2 separate regions of the Homo sapiens genome follow, and region 1 is linked to region 2. The links come from fine-mapping of genetic effects on gene expression. A gene starts in region 2. The other region holds a variant in brackets. All regions are shown on one strand. Distances are from middle to middle. Region 1 overlaps R3HDM2 (R3H domain containing 2). Region 2 holds the start of R3HDM2 (R3H domain containing 2).

Region 1 (2,911 bases), 160 kb after region 2:
CCTTCCTGGCAGGGCTCCTCTGTCCAAGCAGGCCTTCAAATTGTGTGTCGGTGAAGCTCGTGAAACCAGGGGTGAGGCTGAGGATTAAAGGGCCAGGATCTCCCTTTTGCCCAATTTACTTAAAATGAAGTAGACTTCTTGAAAAGGAGTTCTCGGGGCCCCCTTTTGTCATCAAGAGCCAGTGAACAAGCCCAGAATTTGCCAGTAGGTGGCAGCCACATCCCTCAGGGCAGTCTTTTTTTTTTTTTTTTTTGTTCATTATTTATTTTTCCATAAGTTATTGGAGTACAGGCAGTACTTGGTTACATGAGTGAGCTCTTTAGAGGTGATTTGTGAGATTGTGGTGCACCCATCTCCCGAGCAGTATACACTGCACCATATTTGTAGTCTTTTATCCCTTGCCCCCTTCCCACTCTTCCCCTCAAGTCTCCAAAGTCCATTTTATCATTCTTTTTTTTTTTCTTTTGAGATGGAGTCTCGCTCTGTCACCCAGGTTGGAGTGCAGTGATGCACTCTCGGCTCACTGCAACTTCCACCTCCTGGGTTCAAGCGGTTCTCCTGCCTCAGCCTCCTGAGTAGCTGGGATTACAGGCACGCACCACCACGCCCAGCTAATTTTTGTATTTTTAGTAGAAATGGGGGTTTCACCATGTAGGTCAGGCTGGTCTCAAACTCCTGACCTCATGATCCGCCCACCTTGGCCTCCCAAAGTGCTGGGATTACAGGCGTGAGCCGCTGTGCCCGGCCCATTTTATCATTCTTATGCCTTTGCGTCCTCATAGCTTAGCTCCCACATATCAGTGAGAACATGCGATGTTTGGTTTTCCATTCCTGAGTTACTTCACTTAGAATAATAGTCTCCAATCTCATCCAGGTCACTGCAAATGCTGTTAATTCATTCCTTTTTATGGCTGCATAGTATTCCATTGTGTGTATATACCACAGTTTCTTTACCCACTCATTGATTGATGGGCATTTGGGTTGGTTCCATGATTTTGCAATTGTGAATCGTGCTGCTATAAACATGCACATGCAAGTATCTTTTTTGTATAATGACTTTTTTTCCTCTGGGTAGATACCCAGTTGTGGGATTCCTGAATCAAATGGTAGTTCTACTTTTAGTTCTTTTTTTTTTTTTTTTTTTAGATGGAGTCTCACTCTGT[C/T]GCCCAGGCTGGAGTGCAGTGGCACGATCTTGACTCACTGCAAGCTCCGGGTTCATGCCATTCTCGTGCCTCAGCCTCCCGAGTAGCTAGGACTACAGGCAACCGCCACCACGCCCAGCTAATTTTTTGTATTTTTAGTAGAGACGGGGTTTCACCATGTTAGCCAGGATGGTCTCGATCTTCTGACCTCATGATCCGCCCGCCTTGGCCTCCCAAAGTGCTGGGATTACAGGCATGAGCCACTGCGCCCGGCCCTACTTTTAGTTCTTTAAGGAATCTCCACATTGTTTTCCATAGTGGCTGTACTACTTTACATTCCCACCAGCAGTGTAGAAGTGTTCCCTGACACTGCATCCATGCCAACATCTGCTGTTTTTTGATTTTTTGATTATGACCATTCTTGCAGGAGTAAGGTGGTATCACATTGTGGTTTTGATATGGATTTCCCTGATCATTAGTGATGTTGAGCATTTTTTCATATATTTGTTGGCCATTTGTATATCTTCTTTTGAGAATTGTCTATTCATGTCCTTAGCCCACTTTTTGATGGGATTGTTTTTTTCTTACTGATTTATTTGAGTTCGTCGTAGATTCTGGATATTAGTCTTTTGTCAGATGTACAGATTGTGAAGATTTTCTCCCACTTTGTGGTTTGTCTGTTTCCTCTGCTGTTTTTTTTTTTTTTTTTCCATGCAAACGTTTTTTAGTTTAATTAAGTCCCAACTATTTATCTTTGTTTTTATTGCATTTGGTTTTGGGTTCTTGGTCATGAAATCGTTGCCTAAGCCAACATCTAGAAGGGTTTTTCCAATATATTATCTTCTAGAATTTTTAATTTCAGGTCTTAGATTTAAGTCCTTAATCCATCTTGAGTTGATTTTTGTATAAGGTGAGAGATGAAGATCCAGTTTCATTCTCCTACATGTGGCTAGCCAATTATCCCAGCACCATTTGTTGAAAAGGGTGTCCTTTCCCCACTTTATGTTTTTGTTTGCTTTGTCAAAGATCAGTTGGCTGTAAGTATTTGGGTTTATTTCTGGGTTCTGTATTCTGTTCCATTGGTCTATGTGCCTATTTTTATACCAGTACCATGCTGTGTTGGTCACTATAACCTTATAGTATACTTTGAAATCAGGTAGTATGTTGCCTCCAGATTTGTTCTTTTTGCTTAGTCTTGCTTTGGCTATGGGGGCTCTTTTTTTGTTCCATATGAATTTTAGAATTTTTTTTTTGTAATTCTGCGAAGAATGATGGTGGTATTTTGATGGGGATTGCATTGAATTTGTAGATTGCTTTTGGCAGTATGGTCATTTTTACAATATTGATTCTACCCATCCATGAGCATGAGATGTGTTTCCATCTGTTTGTATCATCTATGATTTCTTTCAGCAGTGTTTTGTAGTTTTCCATGTAGAGGTCTTTCAACTCCTTGGTTAGGTATATTCCTAAGTTTTGTTTAAATAAATTTCCTCATGGTTTTTCAGAGCTTCCCTGGCTTTGTAGTTTTACACCCTTCAAGAAGAGAACTATGGCTGAGGATAGCTGTGGAGTAACTAAAAAAATAGCACTGCTATCCCTGCCCGTATCACTGCCCTTCCCCAGTTAGGGGAGGCCTAAGAGGAGCATCACTTCTTCTCACTTTACTCTTTAGTCAGAACTTACAAGTGTGGGGAAAACAGGCACAGTTTTGTTTTGTTTTGTTTTGTTTTGTTTGAGACGGAGTCTTGCTCTGTTGCCCAGGCTGGAGT
Region 2 (2,911 bases):
ACACATAATACAAATATTAGCTATTATTTCCTACTGGTCATCACTGCCTGGTCTGGAACTCCTGAGCTCAAATGATCCACCTGCCTTGGCCTCCCAAAGTGCTAGGTGTGAGCCACTGCGCCCGGCCAAGACAAAAAGTTTAAATCGTGGTGAAAAGTGGCAGGTTAGATCAGTTCAGTTCAGTTGTATTTTTCTTCCCCCGTTGTTGTTCTCTAGAGGGTTGAGAGAATTTGGGGGCAGGAGGCAGTGATGACCAGGAGAGAGGGCTGGGCAAGGTGGCTCACACCTGTAATCCCAGAACTTTGGAAGGCCGAGGCGGGTGGATCACCTGAGGCCAGGAGTTCGAGATTAGCCTGGCCAACATGGCAAAACCCCGTCTCTACTAAAAATACAAAAAATAGCCGGGTGTGATGGTGCGTGCCTGTAGTCCCAGCTACTCCGGACGCTGAGGCAGGAGAATCACTTGAACCTGAGAGGTGAAGGTTGTAGTGAACCGACATTGCACCACTGCAATCTAGTTGCCTGGGTGACAAAGCGAGACCCCATCTCAAAATAAATAAAACAAACAAACAAACAAACAAAAAACGCCAACCAACCTGGAACTTGCTCATCCTTGAAGGAAAGATGAACTTCATGCCTCTATGACTTTGCTGGAATCTCCATTCTTACCTCTCTAGTGAACTATTTATAGTCTCAAGATTAGCTGGAGTTTCACCTGTAGTTTCTCTGTAACTTACTCAATCTCTTTTACCGCTAAGAACGAATTGCTGTTCCTTGTGTTTCCATAGCACATTTAAACCTTTCTATTATAGCACTTAAATTGTACTATAATTATTTGACTTTTTTTGCCTACCGCAGTTTCTGTCACAAGGTAAATATTTAATGGTCGAATTCTACAAAAGACTACATTGCTTCTTTGAGGGAGTTTGGTCAGTAAATTATCCACACACACATAATCAATAACTAAATTGATTCTGCCTAGAATGGACAAAACGGGGGAGGCTGGACATTTAAGACGATTTTTGAGAACTGTATCTTAGAGAGGGGATGATGGTAAGAATGTGATCTTAATAGGACAGACTGAGTTCCTCCTAGGTCGGTTTTTTTCATCTTTACGTAAAATGGACATTTACCTGCTCAACTATAGTTATCCACGTATGCAACAAATACCGAGTGTACGTTCTTTTGGTACAGGAGTTACTGCCCTAAGTGAAAGTGCTCTGTAAATGGAAATTACTTTAGAATGATCACTATTAGTATTATATTGAAATCCAGGGTATTCTATCTGACAGACTTGAAGGGTTTAAGGAGGACCGAGGCTCCCAGTGACTCCGGATTGGTGTCCTGACACAGGTAACGCGGAAGGAGGAGAGGGCGAGCGAGCGAGTGCGAGTGCGCGCGCGCCGGCGGGAGTGCGTGCGGCAGGCGGTAGGCCCCGCAGGGCTGCTGAGGGGCACGCGGGAAGCCAGGAAGCAGGGACGGCCGGAACGCAGGACGAGGTGACGACAACGCCGGACGTAGTGACGTAGCGCGCAGCCGCAGCGGGGGGCGGACTCTGGGCTTTTCTTCCCCTTCTGATTTTCCCCTCCCCCCTTTTCTCCCTTTCCGGGTTTGGTTCCCCCCTTTTCTTCCCCTCTCCCCCCTCCTTCCCAAGCCCCTTTCCCCTCCCCCGTCCCAGTCCCCCCTGCTTCCCAGCCCTCGGCCCCGGGGAAGCCCCGGCCGAGAAAAGCCCGCCCCCAGAAGCGCGCCGCCGCCGGCCGTCGGGGCCGAGCCGCAGCCGAGCGGCCGTGGGCCCGGGCGGCGGGCGGAGACGTGGGCGCCCTCCCCGCCAAGGCCCGTGCGAGGTGAGGCCACCTCCCGGCCGAGGGGGCGGGCGGCCCGGACGGCCTGTGGGGAGGGGGCGTGGCGGCCGCACGGGCGGGCGCGAGGAGGCCCCGCGGCCTGGGTTCCTCGCGCCCGGCAGCCGGTCCCGGGGACGATGGGTCAGGGTCGGATGGCCGCGGGAAGGACTGCTCCAAGTGTGCGCTGCTGGAGAGAAGCTGGGGGCGCGGGGCGGAGGGCGGCGGTGCGGGGGCAGGGGGGTGGCGCCACCTGTGGCCTTTGCGGGGTGACCTAAAAACTATTGCGCCCTTCCAGTGCTTCGGGGTGGCTAGCTCCGTGTGTTTCTTGGGTGGCGGTTTTCCTTCGAGCGTGGAGCATGGAAAAATAGGACGGAGAGGTGTAGAAGTGTTTAAAATCATGCTGGTGTCCAGGTTTCTTACAGGGACGGGGATTTGAGTTGGCACATACAGGGAGATGTTTCTATAGCTTAAAACTTGGGCCTACACTAAGCTCATAACTACTCGAGCCCCTGAAAACGCTTCGATTCGTTTTCCCGTAGAGCTAACATTTTTCAACATTTGTGGCCATTAAGTCTCGGAACTACCAGGAATACTGACTTAGAGTGAATTGTCATTGGATAATGATGAGAAATGACCGAATAACAATCCCAGAACTGCGTTAAAACGGAAGAAAGAAAAGTGGAAAAGTTTGAATTCAGATCCCAGTTGGATGAATATCCTTGTACATAATGTTGTTCAAATAGATAACTAAGATTGAGAAGCCTGAGTCCTGTCTGATATGCGTAAGCCACGTGGAGACTCAAGGAAGGAGGAAAGTGACAGGTTTCACTTCAGGAATATCACAAATTCCTAGCATTTTCTTGTATTTTTAGATAGATTTGCAGTTGAATTATTTGTGGCTCTTCTTCCTAATGCTTTTTTTTGTTGTTGTTCCACCAATATTCCCCCCCCACCCCCGCCCCCCTTTTTGTTGCTGGGGTATCAAGACAAAAGGTTGTATTTTGTTTTTTGAGACAGGGTCTCAGTCTGTCACCCAGAATGGAGTGTAGTGGTTCCTTTTCGGCTCAATG

The links.
Region 1: its variant is fine-mapped to the expression of R3HDM2 in whole blood (TOPMed, PIP above 0.99).

What each region holds. Positions count from the first base shown.
Region 1 is chr12:57,274,442-57,277,352 of GRCh38, reverse strand. All of the region lies in intron 14 of R3HDM2 (R3H domain containing 2), which reads left to right. Among named protein-coding and RNA genes, the nearest start is that of STAC3, 25 kb to the right of the region's middle. The variant C/T (reference allele first, on the strand shown) is at 1,164.
Region 2 is chr12:57,429,653-57,432,563 of GRCh38, reverse strand. It overlaps R3HDM2 (R3H domain containing 2), which reads left to right and starts at 1,521. Exons shown (of 24, transcript NM_001394031.1): 1 at 1,521-1,844. R3HDM2-DT (R3HDM2 divergent transcript) reads right to left here and starts at 1,448. Exons shown (of 2, transcript NR_185976.1): 1 at 1,134-1,448. RefSeq lists a silencer at 1,620-2,089 and an enhancer at 2,270-2,379.